Regions from separate parts of the Homo sapiens genome. Here regions 2 and 3 are each linked to region 1. The links come from fine-mapping of genetic effects on gene expression. A gene starts in region 1. Each other region holds a variant in brackets. All regions are shown on one strand. Distances are from middle to middle.

Evidence for each region. PIP is the estimated chance that this variant, and not a neighbour inherited with it, causes the effect.
Region 2: its variant is fine-mapped to the expression of LINC02884 in whole blood (INTERVAL, PIP 0.99).
Region 3: its variant is fine-mapped to the expression of LINC02884 in whole blood (INTERVAL, PIP 0.99).

The regions. Positions count from the first base shown.
Region 1 is chr1:112,357,287-112,365,286 of GRCh38, forward strand. LINC02884 (long intergenic non-protein coding RNA 2884) reads right to left here and starts at 3,321. Exons shown (of 2, transcript NR_183466.1): 1 at 3,076-3,321. It also overlaps the pseudogene TXNP3.
Region 2 is chr1:112,245,962-112,256,874 of GRCh38, forward strand. All of the region lies in intron 1 of LINC02884 (long intergenic non-protein coding RNA 2884), which reads right to left. Among named protein-coding and RNA genes, the nearest start is that of LINC02884, 110 kb to the right of the region's middle. RefSeq lists an enhancer at 5,314-6,513. The variant G/C (reference allele first, on the strand shown) is at 6,064.
Region 3 is chr1:112,232,876-112,243,788 of GRCh38, forward strand. LINC02884 (long intergenic non-protein coding RNA 2884) reads right to left here. Exons shown (of 2, transcript NR_183466.1): 2 at 1-2,024. Among named protein-coding and RNA genes, the nearest start is that of LINC02884, 120 kb to the right of the region's middle. The variant A/G (reference allele first, on the strand shown) is at 4,171.

The DNA of each region.
Region 1 (8,000 bases):
CTGCGTTTATCTTCCTCTGTCACTCTATCTCCTTCCATCTTCGCCTCTTACTGTCTCTATAACTCTCTGTGTCTCTCTCTTGCTACTACCCAATAAAGATTTAGAGGCTGGTTCCAGCAGCTGAGAACGGCGATATTAATTCCAAGCTTGTTTCCAAACACCACAGAGGTCTACCCGGGTTAATTAGTTGTGCAGGCTTTTCTACAAGTAAGCGAGCCGGCAGGGTTTTTTACAGCTCTGTCACTGTGTTTATTTGTTCGTTTTCTGTTTTGTTTGGAAATACATTTATCTGACAATAAATAACATCCGCCATGACTAGAGCCGATAAAGGCAATGAACAGCCCCTTCAGGGCCTTGGGGGACATAGTGAGAAAGCTTCAAGGTCGGGTCCCCCTACTCCAAGGGGCACTACCAGCCCTTGAGAAAGATGAAGAGGATGTGGGTAAAACCAGTGGGGGGAGGCTAGAAGAAGAGATAGGATCAAGGGCCATGGACATGGCTAAAAGTGAAGAAAGGAAATGCCCACTGAGGAACAGAGCCCATAGCAAGGAGTCAGGAGCCTGAGGCTCTTGGCAAATGGCAGTAAGGGTACCCTTTTGGCATGACAGGGGGGAGGCAGAAGATTTGGCTGTGGATCCCAGTTCCAGCACATACAAGCTGTGTAACCTCAGACAAGTTGCTAACCTTCATGCCTCCGTTTCCTCACCCATAAAACAAGAGTGATATTAACACCCTCTGCTCAGAGTGGTTGCAAATATATCTAGGAGACAATGAAAGTAAATGCACTATGCAAACAATAGAGATTCTCATTTTTCAGATGAAAAGTATTTCTCAGGAGTATATGGTCAAGATTCTAGGCCTCCCTGGGAAAAAATTAATCTAAAATGTTAGAGCAGGATTTGTCCTTGTGTCCAAAGGCTCTGTGCTAATGACTTCAACATGACCACACAGCTTGGCCCATTTGTAAGTTGACCACAATCTCACCAGGGCTAGTTCAGCTCTTGCACAAGCCCCAAATGGGAAGATTCCGTTAGTCTAAACAAAAAAATATTATGGGGAGTACTTCACTGTGAACCACATATACTTATTTAAGGCTTTCAGGGTAAGGGATGAGGAGAGGTGAGGAGGCAGAGGGATCACAGTATGAAACCAAGTAGGCAGAACAGAGTATCGGTAGAGAGTAGAAGCTCCGAGTTCAGCGTGCCTCTTTACATCACTTTCTGACTATAAACCTTAGAGATGCTATTTAACATTTCTATCTCAGTTTTCTCATCTGTAAAATGGGGACAGTGACGGTACCTAGCTCATTGGATTGTGGTGTGAGGAGATGAGATGAAGTATGTGACGTGCTTGGGACAGTAGATGGCACATGGAAGAGCTCAATAAACACTAACTATCCTCAAAACACATGAAAACTACTCAAGAGACATTTCACTTGCGGGCACATGAACTTACTACCAATTGAGAGTCTCAGCGCTGAGGTTGTGCAGTGAAGGAGCATGTCAAATGGTGGGAATTAATCAAGAAATCCTTTCAGGAGGAAGGACAACTTCAACACAGGTTAAAAGAGAAGAGACAGGATAGCACTGCCTGCAGCTGTGCATGTCCTAGCGTGTGTCCCCATTATGCTAGACCCACAGCCAAGAGGAGCCAAGCAACCCCACAGAATTACCAGCAAGCCGCCAGCAGATGGAGCCAGCCACCTCCACACACTGCTGTTCAAGGCACCAGCACCCTCTAAATGGACCGGCACCCAGCCCACGTCCAGTCAGGAGCAGGACTGAGAGAGATCAAGGAAGAGTCACCCTTCACGCCCCTGTGGAGATGATAAGGGTGCTTTCCTGCCCCAGTGTGAGGGGAGAGGGAATCCAGACTCTCCCTGATGCCTCAGAGGCACAGCTCACTGTCAGAGTCCTTGCCATCCTGGAAGCCTAGGACTGCAGCCCAGTGCCCTTGTTGTTCACCTACCCCACTGTGGGAAGGAAAAGCAGGATGCCTGATGAACTTACTTTGAGGGCTGGGACTGCACTTGAATGTAGAGACTGGTATCCATCTGAGTCTGGGAGATTCTGAAAGCAAGAGGCCCACTACAGTAGCCCATCCGGCAGGGCTCGAAGGACCCTGGGGCAGCATGACTGGGAAGAAGATGGGGGCAGCTCTCCCTTCCCAGGTCTGTGGGGCCCTTGAAGGATTATGGGAGAGGATTCCTGCAGGCCCTGTGGCTCTGCATGGAGATGCACGGAAGTCAGTGGAAGGGCAGGAGCTGAGGGTTTGCCCAGGTACCCATGGCCAAGTCAACAAAGGGTCGTTGGGCACCTGTACCACTGTTGAGGCTAAAGAGAGGTGCATCTGTGTGAGGGAAGGAGGGGGAAAGGGTGGTGTTCAGTGATGGAGGAGGGTGGGGTGAGATCTTCAGCATCTAACAGAGCCACAAAGAACAGGAAGGGGAAAAGGACACTCCTGTAAAGAGGTCTCTTACTCTCCATCCCTCCTCTCTGCCCAAATACAGATGCTGAGGCCTCAAAGAGGGAGGAGGTGAGGCATCTTCAAGCCAGGCCCTACTTCCCCTCCACTGCTCCAAACAACCAGGACCCAACTCTCACTTGTGCTGGAGGGAAGGGGAGAGAAGAGCTCTGAATCGAGTTTGCAATGAAAGTTTTAAAAATATAAGAGGCTGAGTCTTAATTACTGGAATGAGACTGTTATAGTAACCGAAAGTGGCTGAAAAGTTATGGAACCAGACCAAGATGTCGTTAAGGGAGCGGCTCCTCAGCAGGAAAGAGAGATCTGGCACAGCACAGCCAGGGCAGTTACTGGAAGAAATAAAATCTTTTCATGTTTATACCCCAACGAGTTGAGACTCCCCAGTGAATCAGGCACACAGGAAGTACCTGGGCCTTGGACACCAGTGTCCCTGTGGTCAGAGTACCCCATGAAGGATGATGTCACGCGGAGCACAACCTCCTCTTCCCATTCAGGTGCTGTCTCACCTCCCAGGGCAAGAGAAGCAGGAGGAATTTGTCCTCCAGCTTTAATGAGGCACTTAGAAAGAGGAACAGGATGGTTTCTTCTTACCGGAATCCTCGATGGAATGCAGGCGCAGGCAGCTGAAAGAGATGGTGCAATTTGCATACTTCTGGTGGATTCCAGGAAGCATCAGCCCCATTTCACCCTAACAGCCAGTGGACTCTGCCTGGGAGGGCCAACAGCCAAAGAGAGCTTTCAGTCTCCAGGCTGAGAAAGTCAGGAGAGGAACAAGTCAGGGGACACCACCAGCCCTGGGACAGCGTGGCAGCATATCCAGAAGATCAGGAAACTGCCGCAGAGGCTTGGTCCCCTACTGGAAATTGAAAGAAAATGAAGTTTAGAAAGAGCAGGGTGGGAACTGGTTTGCAGAACAGAATGTTCCCTTGGCTTATTTTCATCTGGGGGAAAGGGAAGAACTAATACTTATTGAATGCCTGTGCTGTATCAGGCACTATGTTCATTCTTGTCTTATTTAATCCTCCCACAACCCTGTAAGGAAAGCATTTTCTCCATTTTACAGATGAAAAAACTGAGGCAGAGTGGTTGCCTAAGGTCACATGTTGTTGGAATTTGAACTTCATGTTTGTCTGTGTGGTAGACAGACACAGAGATGCCATGCTTACATTGCCCCTTCAATAAAGGACTCACTCCCCTGCTACCAAGAATGTTGGTTTTATTTGCCCCCAGCAATTAGTTCCTTCAAGGACCACCTGAGTTTTTAAGCCACAGTCACTCTCTTCTTAAGGCAGCCCCTAGCCAATGGCTGAGCAAGGTGGTAGTACAAAGGCCCATCCCTCTTCTACCAATGCGGAACTCCTCTAACAAGCAATTTTTGCTCAGAGCACCCTGTTAGACTGGCAGAGGCTTTGTCAAGTCTGCATCAGAAGCCAAGAGCTCCTCCTGGCCAAACTGCTTCCTCCCTTTTCCACTCACAGGTGATCCTCCCCTTTGCACTTCTACCTCTGTTGCAGCATCTAGTTCCAGAGAACCCAGTGGAGACTCCTAACAGCCTGACTGCAAAGCTTTCCCTTTTTCTGACACTTTATCTTCATTTTCACTTGTCCTTAGGTAACATTGCTGCAGTGCAGAGAGTGAGCTCCTTCTTGGTAGCAGGGGCTTCACCCCTTCCAGAAGAAAGCTACTGAAGGTTTAGTGATTAAGGCAGTTTCCAAAGAGTTAGTTATCCTTGATGATTATGTGCTCAATGCTCAAAGGCAGTTGCTAACATTCAGACTTTGAGGTCTAAAGTCCAAGTAAAGAGTCTACCCCCACCTTCTCCCTCTCCCTGACGTCAATTCCACCCCCTTAAATTGCTACAACATGGAATTAAGATATATAGTTTTATTATTTGTTGTGCTTAATGGAAAAGCTTTAGGATTTCTGAGTTTAATTTAAAAAGCAGATGGTCATAAGCAACAAAAGAAACAAATATATAAATTGGACTTCATCAAAACTAAAAATTTTGTGCTTCAAAGTACACTATCAAGAAAGTGAAAAAATAAGCCAGCACCCATAATCCCAGCTACTCAGGAGGCTGAGGCAGAAGGATCACTTGAGCCCAGGAGTTCAAGGCCAGCCTAGGCAACACAGAAAGACCCCATCTCTAAAATAATAATAATAACAAAGAAAGTAAAAAGACAAGCCAATTAAATAAGGGCAAAGAATTTGAATAAACATTTTTTCAAATAAAATATACACATAGCCAACGTGCACATGAAAAGTTGTTCAACATCATCAGTCATTAGGGTAATGCAAATCAAAACCAGAATGACACATCACTTTATATCCACTAGCATGGCTATAATTTTTTAAATGGACAATAACAAGTGTTGAAAAGAATGTGGAGAAATCGGAACTCTCATGCATTGTTGGTAAAACTGTAAAACAGTATGGCTGCCTTGGGAAACAGTTTGGCAATTCCTCAAAAAGTTAAATAAAGAGTTACCATATGACCCAACAATTCCACTCCTAGGTATATATCCAAGAAAATTGAAAACTTGTGTCCACATAAAAACTCATACTCAAATGTTCATAGAAGCATCATTCATAATTTCCAAAAAGTAGAAAGAACCCAAATGTTCATCAATTGATGAATGGATAAACCAAATGAAGTATATCCACACAATGGAATATTATTCAGCCACAAAGAATGAAGTACTGATACATGCCACAACATGGATGAACCTTGAAAACATTATGCTAAATAAAGAAGTCAGATATTAAAGCCCACATATTGTATGATACCTCTTATGTTAAATTTGCCAGAATAGGCAAATCCATAGAAACAGAAAGTAGACTAGTGGTTGCCTGGGGCTGGGAGGAGGGAAAAATGGAGAGTGACCGCTTAATGGGTATAAGGTTTATTTTAGGGTGGAATTAGATAGTGATGATGGTTTCACGACTTTGTGAATATAATAAAAATCACTGAAATGTGCAACTTTAAAGGGTAAATTTTATGATATGTGAGTTATATCTCAATAAAAACATTTTTAAGCTGCTGAGTTGAATATTTTACATTTCCCTAAGGAGACAAAACCACTTCAATTAAGGTGGCTTATTAAGTGACTTTTGACTGATTTCCTCCCCCCCACGTCCATGGTCTTTGATAATATTAAACTGCCTATCTTTGGTCTAAGAGGCTCATATTTCAGATACTTCAGGACAGAGACGAGATTAACTAAAGTCACTGAAGCTTTCGTTTAGGGGAGAAAAGAACACAGCTAGTTGTGACCCAGTGAAAAGCCAGATGTGGCATTAAGGACAATCAGGAGAACAGATCAGTCAACCAGAAAACAGAAATACTAGTCTGTCCTTCCTGTTAGAAAATGAGTTCAACATCAGGGCTTAGAGGACAATCCAAAAGACAAAGGTCCTCTGGCCAAAGCTTGGTCCAGCACTTTGGATCCATTTCCATCGGTTCTTACAGTCAGTCATCAGACCCCAACAGTCAAAGTGGTGAAGCAGAAGAGCAAGTTTGCTTTTCAGGAAGGCTCGGATGCTACAAGAATAAACTTGTAGTTGACTTCTCAGCCACATGATGTGGGCCTTGCAAAATGATCAAGCCCTTCTTTCATTCCCTTGCTGAAAAGTATTCCAGCGTGGTGTTCCTCAAGGCAGATGTGGATGATTGTCAGGGTAGGATGTTTGCTTCAGAGTATGAAGAAATGCATGCCATCTTCCAGTTTTTTAAAAAGGAATGAAAGGTGGGTGGGCTCCAGTTTTTGGAGCTAATAAGGAAAAACTTGAAGCCACCATTAATAAATTGGTCTAATCATGTTGTCTGAAAACATAATGAGCCATTGGCTATTTAAAACTTGTAGTTTTTTTATTTACCAAAAAAATGAAGTATGGAGACTGTATACCCAGCTGCCATCTGATTATAAATGACAAACAAATATTAATTCTACCCTCTAAAACAAAAAAAAGTTATCTGGCCTTATAGGAATAATTCTATCCTGATCTGAGGCCAGTGCCTAGTCCAAGTTGTGAAACTAGATTAAACCACAAACCTCAAGAAAGGATCCAAGACTACGAAGCATCACGTCTTCATAATGAACAACTGATATGGCTCATTAAGTTTATGAAATGGTCATGTCTTCTTTAAAAAAAAAAGAACTAATGACCCACACATATATATACAACTGATTTTTGACAAAATTGCAAAGGCAACTCAGTGGAGAAAGGATAACTTTTCAACAAATGGTGCTGAAATTATTGGATATCTTATCAAAAATAAAAATAAGAAGTCTCTCTGAGCATGCTCTGGCTTAAGAGGCTGGCCAAAGATAAAAAGATTAAATTAAATTAAAAATAAATAAAAATAAACTTCAATCCACACATTTTACTACATACAAAAATTAATTCAAAATAGATCATAGATCTAAATGTAAAACCTAAAACTATAAAACTTCTTAAAAAATAGAAGAAAAATTTGTGTGAACTTGAGTTTCAGGTAAAAATTTCTCAGCTAAGGCACCAAAAATACAATCCATAAAAGAAAAAAATGATAAATTGGACTTCATCAAAATTAAAAATTTTACTCTTTGAAAGACACTGCTAAAAGAATGAAAAGACAAGCCACACACTTGAAAAGACTCTTTGCAGAAGACGTTTCTGATAAAGGTCTTATGTCCAGAAAATATAACAAACTCTAAAAATCCAACAAAAGAAAGCAACCGATTTTTCAAATGAGCTAAAGGTTTGAACTGACACTTCAACAAAGAAGATAGTTGGAAAGTAAGAACATGAAAAGAGGTTCAATATAATTAGTCATTAAGGAAATGCAAATTCAAACCATAATGAGGCACCATACAGACCTATTGGAATGGCTAAAATTTTTTAAATGGCCATACAACTGTTGGCAAAAATGTGAAACAGGTGGAACTTTCATGGTACAACCACTCTGGAAGACAGTTTGGTAGTTTCTTTAAAAGTTAAACACATACGAAACATATTCCAAGGTATTTACCCAAAAGAAAAGATAGCGTAAGTTCAGAAAAGATTTGTATAAGATTCATCATAGCAACTTTATTTGTAATAGCCAAAAAATAGAAACAACCCATTTGCCCATTCATTGTAAAATGGAGAAACAAATTGTGGTGTATCTATACAGTGGAGTATTATTCAGCAATTAAAAAAATGAACTATTGATATGCAGAAAAATGTGAATGAGTCTGTAATTATGCTAAGTGAAAGACTCTTGAAAAAAGGAGTACATATTATATGATTCCATTTATATAAAATTTTTAGAAATACAAACAAATGTATAGTGACCGAAAGCATATCAGTGGTTGCCTGAGGCTGGGGGAAAGGGGCAAAGTGGGTAGGAAAGACAGATGGCAAAGGGATACAAAGAAACTCCAGAGGATGATGAGTATGTTCACTGTCTTGATTTTGGAGACGATTCTGGGGATGTGTTTTAAACTCATGAAATGGTAAACTTTATGTGTAGTTTACTGTATGTCAGTTACACC
Region 2 (10,913 bases), 110 kb before region 1:
TTCTTTTTCCTGGAGAAATGGCCCTATTACCCACAGGCTGCCTGGGCTCAAGGAAACAACAGCAGGTGGCCAGGCCCTCCTGGTGTGGTCTCACACCAGGGAGCTCTGCCTGAAGAATAAGCTGCTGGTTCGATCCCAGCTGTTCTGAGGCCCCCCCTGAACTGACCCCATTTCCAGAATTGGCTAAGGGCTCCTCAAATAAGCAAATGCCTCCAGGAGGATGAAAGGAAGACTCGTGCAAAGCTTTGAAGCCTGCCATAATGCTGCACCAGCTCCTCCTCCCTGCTCAGGACATCTCCTGAAGGAGGAGATACAAAGAGAATCTGTGATGAGCAAATGAGGGACAGCCAAGGGCCAGGATTTGTAGCAACAGCTTAAGTCTCTGCTTTCTTGTCAGCCCTGATGGCTGGCAGCGAGGATAATTCTAAATGAAGAATGGTTTTCAAGGAGGAGCAAGAATCTCTCATCTGAAACAATTTGTTGTCCAAAATTGTACTGCAGAAGTTGTTTAGAAGGTGCAGATTAAGTTGTGCATAAAAATATAGTCAGCTCTTGATTATCCACATTGATGGATAATCCAAAAACAACACATACCTCGAAGTGATTTCTCTTTGGTTTCATAACACAGTATTATTTTTCCTTCAACATTTTTAGCTTTCTTCATTTAACTGTCTTCAGGATATAACCAAGGAGCTAGGGGATCTGTAACCTTCTGTTAATTACAGAATAACCAAGGTTTCAGCACCATGCCCTCCAAGGCAGGAGTTGCCTGAATGGAATTTGTAGATAAAAATACTATTTAGGAAAATGGTGAAAAAGAAGAAAAACTATTTAACATTTGTACTTCCTACACATAGACAAAGAAGAGGCAATTAAGAGCGTAGACTCTGGAGTCAGACTGCCAAAATTCAAATCCCAGCTCTATCTTTGAGTACTTTATTTAACCTCTGACAGCCTCAGTTTTCTCATCTGTAAATTGGGGTTAATAACAATAGCAATGTTAGAAGGCTGTTGTGAGGATTAAATGAGATCATCTATGTAATATGTTTAGCATGGGGCCTGGCACACAGGAGGTATTCAATGGATGTAAATTAATACCAGTAAATGTTAGTTACAACCAGCTCTCAGCAAACTGGGCAGCTCATCTCCTGCAATTGTGCTCAGTAATACCTTGTGGAATTCCCTGAAGGACCCCAGGGACTGTAGACAGTTTGCCACCCCCTCCAATCCCCCAGGGTGGGGGAATGATGCCAGGTTTCATGGGGAGAGAGGCAGCTGCAGCTGTGGACAGATACTGGGGTTCTCTGGAGAGCCAGGACAGCTGTTGATTCCTGTGTGTGCTGAGCAAACGGCCCACCATCCTATCTTAATTATCCTGCCTAATGGGGTAAGGCGATTATGATTCATGGAAAATTGGCCATTGGCAGCTTGGCTTAGGAAAGCAAACAGCCCTCAATGGCCCAGAACAAACAGCAGGTCAGGAGAAAGACTCAGGTGTGCCCAGTGAGAGGCAGCTGCCATGTGTGAAAGGGGAGGTCAGAAGGCCTTCAGCCCACTCATATATGGCTCTGAGAGGTGGGGAAATGGAAGTAGGGGATATAGAACTACCCAGGTAGAGTTGAGTGCAGACACCAGGAGAACTGCTCTGAAGCTCAAAGGTCCAGAGTTCATCTCAATCATCGCCCTGCCTCTGAGGAACCCAAAACAGCTCAGGCCAAGGTGAAGTTACAGAATAGCACTTACCTAGAGTAAGGTGACCTGAATTCTAGGTCTGGCTCTGCCAGGAACTTAATAATAATAATAATAGTAGTAGTAGCAGTAGTATTAACAGCCTCTTATTATGAACCGGATACTGTGCTAAGCTCTTTACATAGATGATCCATTTAATCCTCACAACAGCTTTATGAGGAGGATATTAGTTTTGTCCTCATTTTTCAGATGAGAGGATGAGTCTCCTATTATAAGGAAATCGCCTTAAGTCACCCAGCTAATAAGTGGGTGATCTGGGATTCAAACCAAAGTCCTTGTGACTCCCAAGTCCCTGCTTTTAACCAATCCCCTGAGCCACTCATTTCAGTGGGACAAGCTCAGTTGCTTCATCTGCAAAGGGATATCCAGCCCAAAATTTTGGAGGAAACCCCAGAACGAAAACTCTCAGAGACAGGAGCTGCTGCCTTCTGCATTCTGCCTAAGGGCATGGGGCCAACCCACTTGAGGGAGACAGAGGAGCTCAGGAGTCCAGGCTTGAAGGTTAACAATGGTGATTTTCTTTTCACATTGTTTATAGCAAGGGCTTTGAAGTGTCTCCCAGTGTTTTCACACACACCCTCTGAGGCCCGTCCAGCCCAGGCCTTGGATCATAGACAGCCAAGTGTCCACAGATGCCTTGGGTCAGGTGCACCACTGACACTAGGCTCAGGCCCATCCTGCAGCCTCTGCTCAGCCTCTGCCTCTGAGCCTAGTCTCTTTCTCTGCCTCGGGCTGCCCTGCCACAGGCCGCTCATGGACAATCAGCAGGCTTTAGATCTGGAGCCCACTTGAAGCTGCCCTAGACCCCAAAAGAAGAAGGACACTGAGGCACTGCTTCTGAAAGGGTTTCTGACTACCCTCCTCTCCTTTTCTCTACCCTCACTCCCCACAGCATGTCCAGATACAGAGGCATGAGCTGGAGAAGGGCAGCTCAGACAGTTCGGCCTGGGTCTGAATGAAGCTGGGCCTGCTCTTCTAGTTTGAGAGATCTAGCACCAGGCTGATCAGTACTCAGGTCACAATGGGACTCACTCCCCTTCCCCTGCTGTCCTCTCAGCCCTCCAGGAGCCTCAGCTGCAGAGCCAGCATCATGTGCTATGCAGACTGAGTTTTCTGAGTCTGTACACAGTCCTCAACCCTCAATCCATCATCTCTACTGCATCTAACTCATCTCTTTGTACTCTCTCTCTCCGATTTCTCTCTGCATTTACCCTGGCTCTCAACCACCAGGCCGTCCTCCATCCCCTCCTCTGTGGCAAAGAATTGGAGAGAAGAGTGTCTGTGCTGGAAGGGACCTTACAGATTGTGTGGTCCAAACCTTTCATTCTATAGGTGAGGAACTGAGGCCAGAAGGCCAGCTGGACCAAAGTCATGTGGTTGGTTCAAGGCAGAACTCTGGCTGGACCCAGGGCTCTTGCATTCCTGATCAGTGTTACCCCTTTCAGAGGGATGCTTGTCAAGTTCTGGGAGCAAGTACCAAGCCCAGGGCAGGGCTGGGCACTCAGGAGCCTCTCAACAAGGGGCTAACTGGCAGTCTGTCTTGTCTCTCCACTTGCTCTCCCTCTGGCTTGGCAGGAGCGAAACGCATTAAATAATGACTGCTGGCCTCATTGAGCCCTGCGATCCAGTGATCACTTCTATTCAGTCTCTTCCCAATATAAAGAAAAGCTCCTGAGACTCAAGTATAGATCAGGAGATGGGCTTTGTAGCCAATGAAGAACTTTAGCCCAAAGAAACAGGTCATGTGTAATTAGCCGCAGTTCCCAGAGACTGCTTCATCACCCTTTCTCCTAACTCCACTTCCACACCTACCCCCACTCCCACCCTCCACCCCCACCCTCAGCTCTCTGTCCTTGGATCTCTGAGCATTTGGATCTCTGAGCCAAGAATTTGCTTCTCAGAGAGTAATTGCCCCTGGCTCCCCCTCACTTCTAATCAACAAGCCAAGGTATTAGTTCCTGGGAGCATGATTGATTTCCAGGGACTTGGAACTTAATTACATTTTAGCAAAGTCTGTTTGGAATCCTCAGAGAAGCGAGACACTTTCAGTTCTTTGAACTTACCATGTAGGAGGGCTTCCAGCATCTCAAATATTCAATTCATCCTTCCTCAGGCCAAAAGAGGGGCATTCTATGGCTGTCAGTTTTAATTTTTTCTTACCCAAGATCTCCAACCTCTAGAGCCTGGCCAGAGGAACTTGGCTCTCTCATGCTGAAGAATTCTTCACGTGGTCCTCCCCACGCCAGCAGCTTCCCCATCATGCCCAGGGAACCATGAATCCCGCCTGGGATCCAGGTCTGTGTGCTCCTCCCTGGTCTGCAGGCAAAACCAGCAACCCACCTGCTGCATCAAGCTGGTCCCAGCCTCTGGCTCCCATCTCCACCTCACGAGGTATTCTTTTTATTATTCTAACCATCGTCATCTTCATCATTATTAAAAACTACCATGATTGAGCACTCATTGTGAGCTGGGCACTGTAAGATACCTTACACACACCAGCTTATTCCATAAAGCCCAACGAAGTAGATGTTAATCTCTTTACTTACCAGTGAGGAAATAATGGCTCAGAAAGGTTTAGCACTTTGTTCAAGATCACAGAGCTAGAATTGGGCATGTTGATCTTTCAGTGACCCCATCCCTCTGGAAAATTGCCTCAGTGACATTTTCTGCCTCAGCACATTTTCTGCTACTCTGCTGACCTGCCCTGTCCCCTGTCTCTCCAGGACCACCTCGCCTCTGATCACATGTCCCCTCTAACCCCCGAACACTTCCCTCCTTTATAAAATAGTGTAGACCAATGGGTGAGTTCAAATCTAGTTGCTGAGTATCCATGTCAGTGAAAAATGCTGCTTCATGAAAAAACAGAGATAGTGTGAACAGCCCTGAGGATGCGCAATTTGGGGAGAAGTGTGGACACTGCCACATAAATGGGCCAGCCTGTGACCTCTTCCACCCATTTCCTGAGCCTGGGCCTGAGAGTTAGAGTGTTGCCCTTGGCTTTCAAGAGTACCTAATAACATCATGAAACAAATGGGTCAAAATGAAAACAACTGGTAAACCTAGGTACAGGCTAAACAGGAATTCTTTGTGGCATTTTTGTAACTTTTCTGTAAATATGAAATTATATCAAAATTAAAAGCTTTAAAAAATAGAGTTCTGGTTCAATTTATGGATCTATTTATAGTTGTTTTTGCAATCCCAGTCTATACTGGGCATTTCACATTAATGATTTAAAGCTCAAGAACAATTTTAATAACATCTATATAATAAAGCCACATGAGATTGCTTTTGAGATGACAGAGTGTTATAAATAAGTAAATGCTGTAAGAAGCAACGTAGGGAAATGTACTTGATGACAACCACATGCTTGTCTGGCCTCCAAGAATCACATGAGCTGGATTCCTTGTCTTTCTGTGAAACCCACCTCTCAGAAGGCCTCTCACCAGAGCTGTCCCCTCCCTTGCCCTACATCCTTACCCATGCGGACTGCTGGATGAAGCCACTGCTTCCTGCCTCAGGTACTTACTCACAGCAGTTGTTTCCTCCAGATGTGCCCCTCCCCACAAATGGGTCTAGTTCAGTGTCTGCCCAAGCCTACAGGGTCGTACTGTGTCCCAAGATGTGGCTCGAGCCCTGAACCATTGAGAGTATCTCAGACCTGAACCCAGGGAAATCCACTGTCTTGCCCCATTGCACTCTGCCTTCTTTCATAGGTCCAGAGCTTGTGTATTACCAGACAAGATGCCAGTTCATTTGGAAGTTCTTGCTCGCAGACTCAGATTTTTGATCCTTGGATGGATTTTAGTGATGTTTCAAATTTGGGAGCTTCCCAGGGGTTATGGATCTGGTTAGATCAGCACAACTCTTGAGGACATATTGGGGAAGAGGCCTAATGTTTTTAGAAATAGATTTACAAACTCAGATCTTTATAGAATAGTGCAGACCAATGGGTGAGTTCAAATCTAGTTCCTGAGTATCCATGCCAGTGAAACATGCTGTTTCATAAAAAAACATAGATACTGCGGACAGCCCTGAAGATATTTGCATATCCGAGCAGCCCAATCTAGGGAGAAGTGTGGACACTGCCACATAAATGGGCCAGGCTGTGACCTCCTCCACCCATTTCCATAGCCAACGTATATATAGTGCCAAACAAGAACCCTCTGTCTTCAGACATTCTCAAAGGATTGGTAAGCCAGCGTCCAGGAGCATGATTCATCATCTTGCAGATATGTTGCTCCACCCTAGCCCTGCACAGGGCAACCCTGCCTCTTCCCCAACCCTGGCTGGGATCCAGTTCAAAGAACACATCGG[G/C]GGGTATCTTGGCTCACCAACATCTGGAGTCCCTGCAAGGGCATGTTCTAGAGATCATAAGACGCCAAACTTCTCTAGCTGTAGGCATCCCTGAAGACACTTGTTATTCTGAGAGCCACTAAGTCATTGCTGGAAGTGGAGGAACAGAGAGGAAATGACAATGATGAAAGAAAGCTGAGGACTGGAGTGGAAAAGGGAGGAGAATCCATGACTGTGGAATTTCCAAACCTTTCAGTGAGGGCAAGGAGAGCCACCCTTTTATCTCATCCCCGCCCTCCCTGCCAGCCACTTGCCACCCCCATTTACATGGACCCATTTGTCAAATGGCCCGGAAATGTCCACAGGCAGCCAGATCTGACCTTCCCCAGAGAGCAGTGAAGGCCAGGCCTGCTCAGCAGCAAAGCCCAGCTCCAACCACCCCAGGAATAAAAGTGAAAAAGGGAAATAGTACATGGCACAAGGATGTGGCAGAGAGAAGTGAGTGTCTGAGCCTACGCCCAGGAGGGAAATCACATAAAGAGATTCTCAGGAAATCACATATGTAATCCCAGCACTTTGGGAGGCCGAGGCGGGCAGATCACGAGGTCAGGATATCGAGACCATCCTGGCTAACACGGTGAAACCCTGACTCTACTAAAAATACCAAAAATTAGTCGGGCATGGTGGCAGGCACCTGCAGTCCCAGCTACTCGGGAGGCTGAGGCAGGAGAATGGCGTGAGCCCGGGAAGCAGAGGTTGCAGTGAGCCAAAATCGCACCACTGCACTCCAGCCTGGGTGACAGAGCGAGACTCTGTCTCAAAAAAAAAAAAAAAAAGGAAATCACATAAAGAGAGCACAGCCAGGGCCACCTTGAAGCCCCACTGTGGGAGATAATGATGAAGGCCTGGTGCTTGGAGCCAGACACTCTGTAGGACAAGTACCCTTGGAAAATATGAAAGTGAGGTCAATTCCTACCAAGACGGAAATCAGAGCAATTTACAATATTAGGAGCAGAACTTACTGGAAGGTGGTGGGGGCTGGCAGAGGCACCCCCAAAAGGAAAAGGTATGGGAAGAATAGGCCTTGGAATTGGGCCCAGCTGCTTTACACTTTCCAGAGATTGGGTCTAGCTGTTCTCTCATCACTCCATTCTCTATGATCCTTTTCTGTTTTAATGCTTAGCTGAAGATTCTGGTAGCTTTTTCTTATTTCCAAGTTAACTGAGCAACAGTGCTTACCATCTTTACCACACCCTCTCTCTACCCCATACACACACACATTCATTTCAAAACAGTGACCCTGGGCCTCTCCTTCCTTTTGAATAACCCTATCCTTTTCCCTCTCCTGCCGTTGTCCACAGAGCCCAGCCTTCCCCCTTCACTCCTGAGACCTCCTCCTCTCAACCGTCTTCCCAGGAGGTCTGCCTGTAACTGGGAACTGGAAACTACAGGGAGAGAGACTAGGAAACAAAAGATCGTGGAAGAAACCCATGAGTTTGAGCTCAGGAGCTGCAGGCTTTCTATGACTGGCCTGAAATGACAAAGAAGACAGCCCAGCAGCAGCTGCAGATGAAGCCCAGCCCCAAAGCTGAGGAAAGGGCCAGGGACAAGTGAGAGGGAGTGAGCTGATATGACAAATATCATCATCATTATAAATACTCCCTCTTTGATATTTACTATGTGCTAGGTACATGGCTAAACTCCCTATCTCATTTAACCCTCAAAACAGCTTTTAGGTAGGAATTTTCTCCATTTACAGGTGCGAAATCCAACTTAGTGATATAATTTGCCCAAGGCCACAAACACAAATAAGACCAAGATTAGAGAAATCTGAAGCTAAGATTGTCATTATCTGGTCCCAGTGACAATCTTAGCTTCACTACTCATCTCCCACCTCTCACCAGCAGGCGAAAGAAGGTAGATGTGGAGGAGGGGCTGTGCAGAAACCTCAGAAGGACCCCGTCCCCTGACTCCATCACCAGCTGAGGTAAGGGCTCTTCCCCAGTCCTGTGTCTGGGTCCAGGCTCCTCGCCTGACAGCACCTGAGATCAATTCCAGGTACATTTTTAACTTTTCCACAACACAGGTGGCCCCGTGGGCTGAGACTCAGGAACCCACCTCATCATCTGGTTCTGCTCACTGCCTCTTACTGTGATTTTTTTTCTTCTCCCGGCCTCGATTTATCTACCATAAAGTGGCTGACAGTTACCAGCTTCTCCTTCTGTTCTACAGAACTATCTGAGAACGCATTGAAGGTTAAAAAGAAAAGATTGACACTCTTAAGAAGAATGATGTTAGTCGTTGTTGATATTAATATTTTACCTGAACAATAGGAGGTTCCTATCCAGATCCTCTGCCCCCTTGGCTGTGGGAGTGCCATGGGGAAGAATGAGAATCAATCAATGAGCTCAAAAGTTGTAGGACTCAGAAAGGGGCCAGGTGCCCTGAAAGAGACAACCCAATAGTGCTTTTCTCCACTAGAGCAGGTCAAGACACCAAAGTTCTGGCCAAAGCCAAGTGCAGGCAGAGGAGGTCTATCATTTGGCAGGGGAAAAAAAAAATGAATAAAATATAGAGGAGGAAGGGAGAAAGGATCTTGTTTCCTATATCTAAAAATGCACCCACAAGATCAAGCTTAAAAACCTGTGTGAGCTGTTCAAAACAGACAAAAACTCTGCTTAGCTGTGATGGGCTGGGCTGGACTAAGAAGACACATTTCTAAAACATCAAAAGGAATGTACCAGTAACAGCTCACAGCCCTCAGACCCACCTTCTCTAGGAATTTCTTTCCAGGCGGTATTTCTAGGGTCTCATGCATGGGAAAGCCAGGGTTGGAGATTCACTTGGTCAACCTCCCTAGTTACCTCAATAACTAATCATCATCACCCTTGAGGGAGGTAGGAAGGATTGAGAGCCTCAGAGGAGAGAGGTTTTAATTAGCCAGCTACATGTTTTTGCACATAGACAATGATGATATGTCCAATCCTTCAACTAAAATTTATTAATTACTCTGTACCAGACATTGTGCTATACTTCTGTGTGGGTGAGAGGTGGTTAATACATGGTCCCTGTTCCCCAGGAATTCTTGACTAGTAGAAGAGACCGACACATGGACAACTAGCCACTAGTGCACATGATGCTGAGTGCAGTCATGGAGAGATGAAGAAACTGCTAGAGGAACATAGAGGCAGGACCCAAGGAGTCTTCACAGAAGATGTGACACTTGATCTGGTTATCAAAGGATGAGTAAGAATTCTCCAAGGAGACAAGAGGCATGAGAATCTTCTAGCAGAGAGAACAGCTGCAGCCAATGCAAAATCATATAAACAAGTATGAGTGATTTGGTTTGACAGGAATGTGGAATACACAGGGCCTGGTGTGGTAGGTGATGACCAAGCATCATGAACAAACATTTACTGGGCACTGGGCATGGGGCAGAAGGACCACTATGCTCTGTCCCTAGGGACAAAAAAAAGTCCCTAATCACAGCCCTTCCAGAGGGTAGTCATGTTGGAAAGAGTACTCAGTGTTTTACTGGATTCCTAAAAGGATCATTGGGTTATTTTAGCAAAGTTCCCATTTCCTTCATGAAGCTATTCTAAAATCAGAGAGATTTTACTAGCATTTGAGCAAAGAAAGATCCTGGACTCTCCTTCCCCAACCCTTGAACTGAGGCTGTGCTAGTACTGCACATGTTTACCCTCAGATACATTCTTCACCCTTTCTTTGCTCTATTCTGTGTTATGGTGAGGACAGGGGAAACTGGGCCATGCAAGTTGCATCTCCCAGATTTCTGGCTGGATTCAGCCAGTGGGAGGTACTTTCAGAGGACTAGAGGTGAGGAGGAATGGAGAAGTCAGGATATTTCTCCCTCTCCCTCTTTGTTTCAACTACTGCCTCTTCAGCAGCTGTGACTCCTCCATGTCCCACTAGACACATCTACCCTGGTTCAAGTTCACACTGAACACTTCCGCCATGGTCCCAGTTTCCACCTAATGACCTCAACCTCTGGGCTCTGGTAACATCTCACCCTCCCTTTGTCTCCCCAACCTAAGGTGGTAGTGTCTTCCAAGGGTTGCTGATTTCTGCATTCCCATACAGTTTCCTGTTTGGCTTCCCAACTCTTCTATTACTAGTTTCTTGTATTAAATTCTCACTGTTATAAATACTTAAAGTGATCTCTGTCTTCTGATTTGTACCCTGACTAACATAGAGACTGCATTTTAGTGGTCTTTGAGTCTCCCACAGCACCTAATACAGTGATTTTATGTGCTAATTTGTTAGATGAATGGATGGGCAGATGGGTGGATGGATGGATGGATGGATAAACAGATGGTTAATTAAATAGATGAGCAGTGGTATGATTGGATGGATGAGAGTTGAATGGATGTTCATAATTTAATGAGGATGTTTTAATTTCATAAGTATAAAGGAGTAAATTCTAAAAGAACTATGCAGAAAGTGATTCTAAGACATACAAAAATGGCCAGAAATTTAGAACAGCTGTGCTGCCACAAGTCAAGCCCAAAAAGAATCCAGCTGCTAGAAAAGCACAAGAAGAGAAGGAGACTTTGTGAAATTTATTTCTTGTTGCATCTGAATTGAGTCACTCATTTCTTCATTCTCTTTCTGGATCTCTTCCTATATTGGCAGAGAGTGGTGGGGGAAAGACGTGTTTATGGCAAATAGTCCTAATTTTCATCTGGCAGACATTTCCATCCCATTTATTATGCCTGAGCCTCTGCAAAATGAAGGAGATATAATGGAAAGAACCTCATCACCATTGATTCTTAGTCATGTACACTTGAAGAAGATGCCAAATGGCTACAGTCCTGGGCTGGAAAGAACCTGATTGGCCAGATACCTATAGT
Region 3 (10,913 bases), 120 kb before region 1:
GCAGAAGGTTGAACACCAAGGGGGCCAGGCCTGCAAAAGGGAGGCACCAATGCAGGATATGCAAGTCCCCAGGGTGGCAAAGCCTTTTCATATTCTAGACACCAGGGCAGGGTGGAGAGGAAATCCAACTCAGAGAAGGATGGCGAGTGGTGTGACTGCAGGTGTAGTACAGAGGGTTCACTCTTAGGAAATCCACCTGAGGGGAGGCAAGGGGAAGCCCCAGGAAAGGGCCGGGGTGCTGGAAATCTGAGAAATCTGAGCTGAGAGGCAGGCAGGGTCTGTTTTCATGCACCACATGCCCAACCTAACCTGGGCCTTCAGGGAGCTGTCCACACCCTGTCCACAAGCCATGTGTTCAGGACTTGACCCACAAGCCACCCAGCCTTCTGTACCCATTCCACACCTCATTCCATATTCTGGTCTCTCCATGTTTATTGTCCCTGCTTCCTTGGTCCCTTTCCAGTTCTCTCCTATAGCATACCTTTCTTACTAAAGAAGTAACTCAAAGTAATTCATCATTCTTCTTTACTAGGGATAAATCAATGCTAAGAAGTGGTTAAAAAAAAAGAAAGAAAGAAAAAGAAAGAAAGAGAGAGAAAGAAAAATGTTAAAAAAAAAAAAAGAGCTCCTTAAAGAGATTTTCTTCCTGTGTAGTGAGAGGAATTGAAAGAGCATTGAATAAAAAGAGAATTGTACAGATAAACAGTGGTATACCAAGGATGGAGGATGGGGAGAGTTGTCCATCAAGGTGAGGAATATTTTATCACTGACATTGCTTAGAACTGTCAGTGCATGGTGATAATAAAAAGCAGACCGACTTTTTCTTGTATCTATTATTGTTTTAAAATTCTCCATGACATTGCACATCGTTATTTCTTGCATTCAAGGCAAAGCACTCCAACCTCCTTTGGTACTGACCAGCTCTCTGAGTCTTTCTGTGTTCCAAGTGAATCTGCACATTGCAATCATTTTCATCAATAGACTTTGATTTCTCAATCCATAAAACGGCATCCACAAAGCAGAAACAATGGAGGCCAGGGGAGATTTAGATATCATTTATTCCAATCCTCTCATTTCACAGTGAAGGAGATAGGTGGAGATAGGTGATGTGACTTGTCCAAGTTGGTGCCAGAGCTAGGTCTTAACCTCAAGTCTCTGATTCTCTACATCCAGGATTGTATCTAGTACAGAAAGGGGCAGAGCTAGCTCAAAATTTTACAGTTATTTTTAGGTCCCTTTCCCAATTCAACCAAGAACTTTCTCTTAACTACTGAAGGCTCTAATAAAATAATGTGATCTGTGCCTGAGCCTGAAGACAGCTGTCTCGGAAGAGGATCAAAATCCCTCCCCTTACAGTCACCCGAACATGGACTTGATGGCTCCCCTGGATTCTATTCATAGAATGTTCCTGCATTATTGCAATAAAAAGTGCAAAAAAATCCCCTTTCCCAGGCATGTTGCTTCCTGCACTGCTCCAACTTTTATAGCTTCTTCAATTGGCCACTCCATGTAGCTTGGGGCATTAATTACTCTGCACCCTTCATTTGGAAGCAGAGCTTCTCTAAAACCTTCAAGTTTTTCTCAGCTCCAGCCATTGCAGCAACCCCAGCACCTGGGAGCCATGAGGTCATTGCCACCTTTCCAGGTCCTACTGATATCTTAGAGATGCAATAGTGGAAAACATTAGCATATCTGGAACTCAGTTATGTTTTTATTCTTCCATCCTTGGCCAGAAGAGTTTCTTTTCCCAAACCCCTGTGATACAGAGATGGGCATGATGGCTATGAGTGCTCTCAAAAACAACCAGATTTAACATCAGCTAGAATAGAGGTTCTAGAATGAATGAAGCAAATCAGCTCCTCCCCCACTGCAGAAATCATGACCTGGTGTGCTCCACAAGCAGGCTGATGTTTTTTCCAGTTGTCCATTATTTTTAGATTATCCATGTCATTCTTCTCATTAGCCCAAGTCATTGAGAGTTCACAGTTGGTATTGCTGAATCATTGCCCAAGTCACTCAGCCTCCTGATTAAAAACAGATCAAAAAAGCTTGTTAGTTCATCATTACTTATAGAAGAAAGGCTCAACTCCGTAGCAGGATGTTCAAGCCTTTCCTAAACTGGCCCCAACCAACCTCGCCAGCTTCATCACCCATCATGACTGTAAAGCTCTTGTCTTTCCTTCTCACACTCCCACTTTCCATGTCTAATGCTCACTCATCCTCCAGGATTCCGCTTAAGTCATCTTCTCCAAGAACTCTACTTTGACAGCATCTAGGCCCTTACTCAGAGCTCCCTTACCTCCATCTTAGACTTGTCACTCTGCTTTCATGTTTCCTTGTCTGTTTCCTCCACTAGACTGTGATCTCTAGGGGCGCCACTGCATGACAAATGTGTGACTGTGAACAAGTCTTTTACCTTAAATTTCAATTTCATCATTTGTAAATGAGAATAAGAATGGTACCCTCTCCAGCAGTTATCAGGAAGAATACATGGGTTAATACATATAAAGCATTTAGTAAGCTCTCAATAAATATTTGCTATTATTATGATTAGTATTCAAGGCATAGACAAGGTTCATAATTCTTGGTCTTCCCAATATCTAAGTCAACACCTGGCACACAACAAATACTCAACAATTACTTGTTGAGTAAATTAATAAATAATAAATATTCCATCCAAACCTATTTGCCGTTTTCTAAACACTCCATGCCTTTTATGGCTCTTTGTCCTTACACACTCTGTTTGGAATATCTGTTCCTCCCTACTCCCCTTACCCCCATCCCTTTTCTAACTTCAAGACTAAGATCAAATGTCACCTCCTCTTTTCAACACCCTGGGGTCCTGGAGCAGATTTAACTGAGTTTGCACAGAACTTTGTTCATGCCATTGTCATCATACTCATGGCATTATCTTACAATTATTATAATGGTTTGCTTACAATACATTAATTTCTCCATCTCTACAGTGAGCTCCTCTAGAACAATGACTGATTCATGTATCCCCTAACCCAGTTTCAACTCAGTAGCTAGCACAGTGCTGGCATACATTAGGCATCTAATTGACATAGAATAGGTTCCCCAGTGAGTCCAGAGGTTGATCCCGCTGTTTCAGAGATAGTGAGATAAAACCTAAGGACCTTTCCTGGAGAGGCAGGGAATATGGCTGTGTGCTTGGAGCAACACTGCCATTTCTTTATTTCTCCTGCTCACTACGTAAACACCCTAACAACAGTAAAGCAGTCATTTAAATGGGAAAGCAGCATCATCCGCTATACTATTATACTAACACATCAACTGCTTTCATTTTTCTTTGTTCCCCTAAAGTCTTTTATTTATATGCATGCATAAGTTTGCATGGTTGCACTCATAATGTAGACACATTTTAGCATATTGCTTTTTTACTTAACCTTCTCTCATAACATATTTGCAAGTTACTATACTGTCTACAAAATGATTCTGGCTGTATAATATTCCATTTGGTGGTTTTAAGTTACCACTATTAAAAATAATGCTATACCAAATATCTTTTTGCACAGAACTTTTCTTCTTCTAATTGGTGGGATTTTTTTTCAAACACTCCTTTCTAAGACTTTGTAATTTTTCTGGAGCCTTGACAAAAGAGCTGACTTTTTTTTTTTTTTTTTTTTTTTGAGATGGAGTTTCGCTCTTGTCACCCAGGCTGGAGTGCAATGGCGCAATCTCAGCTCACTACAACCTGTGCCTCCTGGGTTCAAGCGATTCTCCAGCCTCAGCCTCCCGAGTAGCTGGGATTACAGGAACTTGCCACCACGCCCAGCTAAATTTTTTGTATTTTTAGTAGAGACAGGGTTTCGCCATGTTGGCCAGGCTGGTCTTCAACTCCTGACCTCAGGTGATCCACCCACCTCGGCCTCCCAAAGTTCTGGGATTACAGGCGTGAGCCACCGTGAACAGCCAAGGGCTGACTTTTTCTTTAAAGTCACAACAAACAAACAGTGAAGTACAGAAGGTCAGTTAAGGCAGACCCCTAGAATAATAGTTCTCAGTCTCTGGACAGGCTTTAGGATCCAGAGGATTACTTGAGGATCTTTTGAAACTACCAATGTACAAGTTTCACCCCAGATCAACTGAATCAGAATCTGGGAATGGAGCAATAGAATGTTTTAAAAGCTTACAATGCCAGTGAAAGAC[A/G]CTTGTCTAGATTCTACCTGTCTCTACCAGGTCAAATAATTAGCAAGAGCATCATGGCAAACAGTTTAATGAGTCCTAGTTCTAGAGCAGAGACTGATGTCACCTGCTGGAGGTGGCCTCTCTGGACTACAAGGATTAGTGATATGCAGAAGGTCATTGGAGACTCATGGGACAAATCTGACTGGTCTCATAATCACTCACTCAAGAAGTACGTTTTTGTTTTTTTTAGACAGGGTCTCTCTCTGTTGCCCAGGCCAGAGTGCAGTGGCACAGCCACTGCAGCCTTGACCTCTCAGGCCCAAGTGATCCTCCTGCCTCAGCCTCTTGAGTAGCTGAGACTACAAGCATGTGCCACCATACCCAGCTAAGTTTGAAATTTTTTTGTAGAGACTGGTCTCACGATGTCACCCAGGCTGGTCTTGAACTCCTGGGCTCAAGCGATCCTCCCACCTTGGCCTCCCAAAATGCTGGGATTACAGGTGTGAGGCAATGCGACTGGCCAAGAAGTACTTATTGATTGCCAAACTGAACTAAACTACATCAGAGTTTTGAATTCCAGTCAAACATATCCCATGGCCTGCTCTACATTCTTGCTTAAACATAAACAGACATCTTGAACTTGACGTATTTAAAACCTAACACCTGATTTATCCTGATCAAACCAGCTGGTCCAACAGTCTTCCACATCTCAATTAATGGAACCTCCTACCCTCTGATTACTCAGGCCCCAAACGTTGGTATCATCCTTGATGCCTCTCCTTCTGTCACATTTTACATTCCAACCCATCAATGAATCCTGCAGGTTTTCCCTTCAAAATACATCTAGAATCTAACCACTTCTCACCACCTCCACCCACTGTCTCCCTGCCCCAAGCCACCACCATCACTTGCCTGAATTATAGCAATAGCTTCTGAAAAATTGTCCCTGATTAACCCTTGCCCCTTGCAGACTTTTCTTCACATAGCAGCCAGAGTAATTTTTAAAAACATAAGTCAAATTACACCACTTATCTGTAAAACTTACAGTGTCTTCCAATCTCACTCAGAGTATGATGTGCCAGTTTGACTGAGCCATGGAGAGCCCGGATGTTTGCTCAAACATTATTCTGGGTGTGTCAGTCAAGGTGTTTCTCAATGACATTAACATTTGGATCTGTTGATAGTAAAGCAAATTGCCCTTCTCAGTGTGGGTGGCCTCATCCAATCAGTTGAAAGCTGACTAGAACAAAAGGGCTGATCCTTCCACAAGTAAGGGGGACTCCTCCTTCCTGACTGCCTTTGAGCTGAAACACTGGCTTTTTTCCACCCCTCAGGCTTAAACTAAAATATTGGTTCTTCCCAGGTCTCCAGCCTGCCAGTATGCAAACTAGAACTACACCACTGAGTCTCCTGGGTCTCTAGGGTGCCAACAGCAGATCTTGGGACTTGTCAAACCGCATAATTGCATGAGCTAATTCCTTACAATAAGTCTGTTTATATATACACCCTGTTGATTCTGTTTCTCTGCAGAACCCTGACTAACACACAGATCCAAAGTCTTTACCAAGACCTCCAGGGTCTTATATAATCAGACCTCCTATTACCTCTCCTTCTCCTCTCCATCTTCCTCCTCATTTCCTTCCTCTCCCCTTCAAATGCTGTGCTCCCACAATGTTAGCCTCAAATGAGTCAAACATATGTCCCCCTTGGGACTTTTGCACCTGCTGTTCCTTCTGCCTGGAAAGCTCTTCTGCACAGCTCACTCCTTCACTTGCTAAAGGTCTCTCCCAGCTCACTGATGTCTTATTGGAGAGGACAACCTTGACACACGCCTCTGTCCCATATAAAATAGCAATCCATCCCCATATGACATTCCTAAGTCTTCTTCTCCTGCTTTAATTTTCTCTGTCATGCCCTTGACTGCCTGATATATTAAATATTTGTCTGCTTACTGTCTTTTCCCACACTAAAATGACTCAGACAAAAAAACACACAGATAGAAAAACAAGCAGTAAAGGAGGATAAAGCATGAGAAGGCATTGTCTCAAATAGGGGAGTTAGGAAAGGCCTCCTTGAGGAAATGAAATGGATACAAAGCCTAGGTGAAGTGAGGGAGAATCAGGCTGAAAATGGGAAAGAGAGGCTATGAACAGGGCACCCCACTCATATCTCCTTGTCATTCTTTATTCAGGTAAGTGCCAATGACGTCCTTCTGAGAACACCTATCACCCCTTCCTGAAGGCTTTCCTCAGCCTGCACATGGGGCAGGTCAGATGCACGGGGGCGGTGGGCAAGGATTAATACCCCTCAGCCAACAGCCCTCAGCAAATGATGGCAAGCAGTTAGAGAATAAGGACCATGGATCCAGCAAATGATGGTGAGGAGTTAAAGAATAAAGACCCTGGCTTCTTCACCCTTTCTATGGGACAACTCTGAGTCATGTTCAAAACCATCTCCCGGAGTCCCCAGTGGGACTGAGCCCACATGCCCACAGGGTTAACCTGCTCCAGGACACATTGTTTTGGCTTTCTTCCCTTCTGTACCTGCCAGTGCTTCCTGGGTTCAATGTCCCCTGGATTCATTCACATTGAAATCCTCATCTCAGAATGCAGCCTAAGACAAAAGAGAGCTCACCTGGTTGCTGATGGCTTTTTAGCCTTGAGATGGGGAGTCTGTGGGAGTGACATGCAGTGGGAAGGAGGCCTCTGCCTGGGGGAGCTGTGTGCAGGGTGGACCGCAGGCGCAGGGAGTGGGGTGCTGGAGCTGTCTAGGGGAGGCTTGTGATCCACACATCTTTCACCGCCCCACACAAAACAGAATGCAATATTCAAATCAGGCTGAGGTCCTGGAGGGAGAGAGAGGCTACACAGGCCTGGTGGTGAATCTGCAGAAGCAGATTAACCCAATCTGCATACTAAACAGCATGTAAATTACGTTATTTCAACCCATAAGTTTAGACATGTCCATAGGAATAAAAATTTATGACAGTGATAAGATGTATGGTTGGCGAAAATAAGCTAGCCCAAGCAAAATATGCTAAAAGGGCTATGGAAATTCTCCAAATTAAGTGAGTGAAGCCAGCCCCAGCCTTCAGCCCGGAGGTGGGGAAGCTGACTCCTGGCCCTCAGGGCACTCTGCTGCCTCCAGACACTACAGGAGAGGGAGAGAATGGTCAGTGCTCATGCAAAGATGGGGGAGCTGCAACCCCTGGGAAAAGGGCTCTGCCTTTGGAAGGGGTCACCTTTACAGATGAAGCAGAAATCATTCCAGGATCCAGGGTAAATTCTTTCAATAATGGTAAATAATAATAGTAGCTAATATTTTTGAGGACTTAGTATATGCCTAGCTTACTTCTGTGCCCTCTATGTGTTCTATTCATTTAATTCTTATAACCACCCCATGAGGTAGGTATCATTTTGTATTCCATTTTAATATGAGGAAACTGAGGCTCAGAAGTTAAGCTTGCAGTAAGCAATAGAACTGAACTTGGGCAGCCTGGCCCCAGAGTCTACGTATTTAACCATAATGCTCTACTGCTTCCATTGAATGTTATGTGGAAAAGAACTTTGAGAGTAATTTATTTCATCCCTCTCACCTTACAGATGAGAAAAATTGAGGCCAAGGAGATGCAGAGACGTGCTCAAGGCCATGCAGCTGGGATAGCAGAGCCAAGATCCTGGCTTAGGTTTTCAGACATCATGGTCAAGGTCTTTCATGTGCCTAGGGCACCTCCTCCCTGTGTCACTTGCAGTGGTCTTGGAAGGCTTAAGGGGCTGGAATCAGGTGAGAACTACCAGCCTGCATTTTCTTTCCTGTATGGCCCTGAGTAACAGACAGAGAAGGTCTGTCTTTAGTAGATTTGCATAGGGCAGAGCAGAAGAAGTTTAGTTTCTGCTCTCAGAAGTGTTCTTTCATAGCCAGAATACTCTACCCTGCCTGTCTGGGGTGAAAGAACTCCACAGAATGTATACCAACGCTTGCCTCAATGCCAGGCTCCTGTTCCAAGTGTCTTGACCCTGTCACTTGGCTAAATTCTCATGATTCCCAAGGGCCAAGACTTTTTTGGCCAGGGTTCATTCAGTTGAAAGTGATCAACCCAAACTCAAACCAGCTATGCCAAAGAGGAGGTTTCTGGAGGGATTGGGAAGCCAGGGTGGAGCTGGCCAGGTCCAGGAGGACATGCTGTGTCTTGAGGACTTGATGCCTCCATCTGCGTTCCTTGTGCCTGGGAACACACACTCAGGGAGGTGCTCTCCACACAGTGGGAGAGAGAACAGCCCCAAGCCCTCATTCTGAGCAGGGAGCAGAGACTCCCTCTCCCAGAGCCGATATGTCAAGTCTATTTATTCTTTCAACAGGATGCAGGGAGCCCCTATCGTGGTCAGGCACCAGGGATACAGCCATAAACAAAACAAATGTAAATCCCATGCTCTTATGGAATAAAACGTTCTATTGGAAGAAGGGTGGAGAACAAATAAAAAGCTAAATGAGTAGGTAAAATGTATAGTATGCAACATAGTGATAATCACAAGGAAAATAAAACAAGGAAGGGAGATAAGAGTGCCAGGAGTTATGTTATAAATTGGAGGTAGAGGGTAGAGAAGAACTCACCGAGAAAGTGGCTGGCATGGGAGCAAAGAGCTGAAGGAGGCAAAGGAGGGTGCAACGCAGGTATGTGGAGGAAGAGCATTTCAGGCAAAGGGAACAGCCTATGCACAGAGCCTGAAGTGGAAGTATGCCTGGCATGATGGATGCACAAAGAAAGGATCAGTGTGACTAAGCAGAGCGAGAGAGAAGGAAGTAGAGATTACAGGATCAGAGAAATAATGGGCGTGACTGGGAGGCGCATTATACCTTTGGCCACATAGAAAGGGAAATGGGTTGTCACTGAAGAGTTTGAGGCAGAGAAATGACATGACCTGACATGCATTTTAAAAAGCTCACAATAGACGTGGCACGGTGGCTCACACCTGTAATCCCAGCACTTTGGGAGGCCGGGGCGGGCGGATCACGAGGTCAGGAGAGCGAAACCATCCTGGCTAACACGGTGAAACCCCGTCTCTACTGAAAATACAAAAATTTAGCCAGGCGTGGTGGCAGGCGCCTGTAATCACAGCTACTCGGGAGGCTGAGGCAGGAGAATCTCTTGAACCTGGGAGGCGGAGGTTGCAGTGAGCCGAGATCGTGCCACTGCACTCCAGCCTGGGCGACAGAGCAAGACTTCGTCTCAAAAACAACAACAACAACAACAACAACAACAACAACAACAAACTCACACTGGCTCCTGGAACTGACTTGACTGTAGGGGGCGTGACTGATGCTAGCAGACTATTGTAGTAACCCAGGCAGAGATCATGGTGGCTTCCACCAGAGTGGGACAGTGGTAAGATTTGGAGCATGTTTTGAAATAGAGCCAAAATGACTTAATAATGACTGGGATGTGGATTGACAGAAAAGTGTCCAGAATGATTACAAGATTTCGAGCCTGAGCAATAGGAATGCTAGAATTATCATCAACTCAGATAAGGACGACTAAGAAAGGCCGGTTTGGGAGGTGGGGAAACAGTCGAAGAAAACCCACTGACACCGGCAGGATTCCATGCCTACATTGAGAGGAATCATTGTGCAAGATGGATGAATGGGGTACTCTGGTTGGCCAGCCTGTGTCAAGTGCCCTCCAATGTAGGAGGCAAAGCCTCATGATTGACAGCCCCATGGGATGGGAAAGTTATAATTCCTCAAAGGAAAGGTATACCTTTCACACAGATAGAGAAGCCACAGAGAGAAGCTAGGTGGCTTGTCCAGAGTCACACAATTTCTAGGAAATAGGAAATTTCTCTCCTGCTTCTCTTTACCCACATGCACAAAATCTGGCTGACTGCAGGCTGAGTCCCATCACCTGATATCAGTAAGAGCCTGTATGGTACACATTAGAATGAGCTCAAGTTGGCAAAATACACCCACAGGCACTAAACAGGGCCATCGCCCGTCAGAAGCAACAGCCATCTCTGAATCCTCAGGGTCTGGCACAGTGGTAGACACATAGTAGGTGCTCCAGAAACATTTACAAACGAATGAACAAAGCAATGGAAGCCCCACCGGGCTAGCCACTGGAAAAGTGGTTCTTTTGCTCAACTTCTTCCTAGGCTACAAAGAGATATATGCTATGGCTCTACTCTGGCCCCTCCCCTGCCCACTCCCCAGCAAAATTCTCTTTGAGAAAAATCTGTAGACATACAGAACCACTTGCTTTCCTCTTCCATAGTGGAGGAGAAGGGCCCAGAGCTGTGGTGCTCAGCAACACAGGTGGTTACTTGCTACCCAGAGGCCTGTGGCTTTGGTTTGGGGGAGTGGGAAGCTGAGCAGAGAGCCTGACCATCCAGGCTGCCACACACTCTGGCTTGTAGCAACTTCCCATCCCTGGCTCAGAAGCTACCCCTGGCTCTGGGCTGGTCCAGGGCTGGCCTAGCAGCCAAGGTTCTTTCAGTGAACCGGAAGATGGGAAAGAAAGGCTGAGAAGGAGGAGACGAGAGAAGCAGTGCCTGGGTGCCCAGAGTCAGAGGGACAAGTAACGCCTGTAAAATGTGGAGTCTAAATGAAGGGCAAGAGAAAAGAAGAGCATGAAGGAAGGAGGGAGAAAGGAGAGGAGAGGGAGGGATTGATTCCTCCAAAGCAGGCCAAGCCCCCAGGATCTGGCTGCTCCTAGAATCATCCTCCTGCAGAGGAGAAGTGAAAGGCCTCCTGCCAGTGGTCAGTGGGCGTGG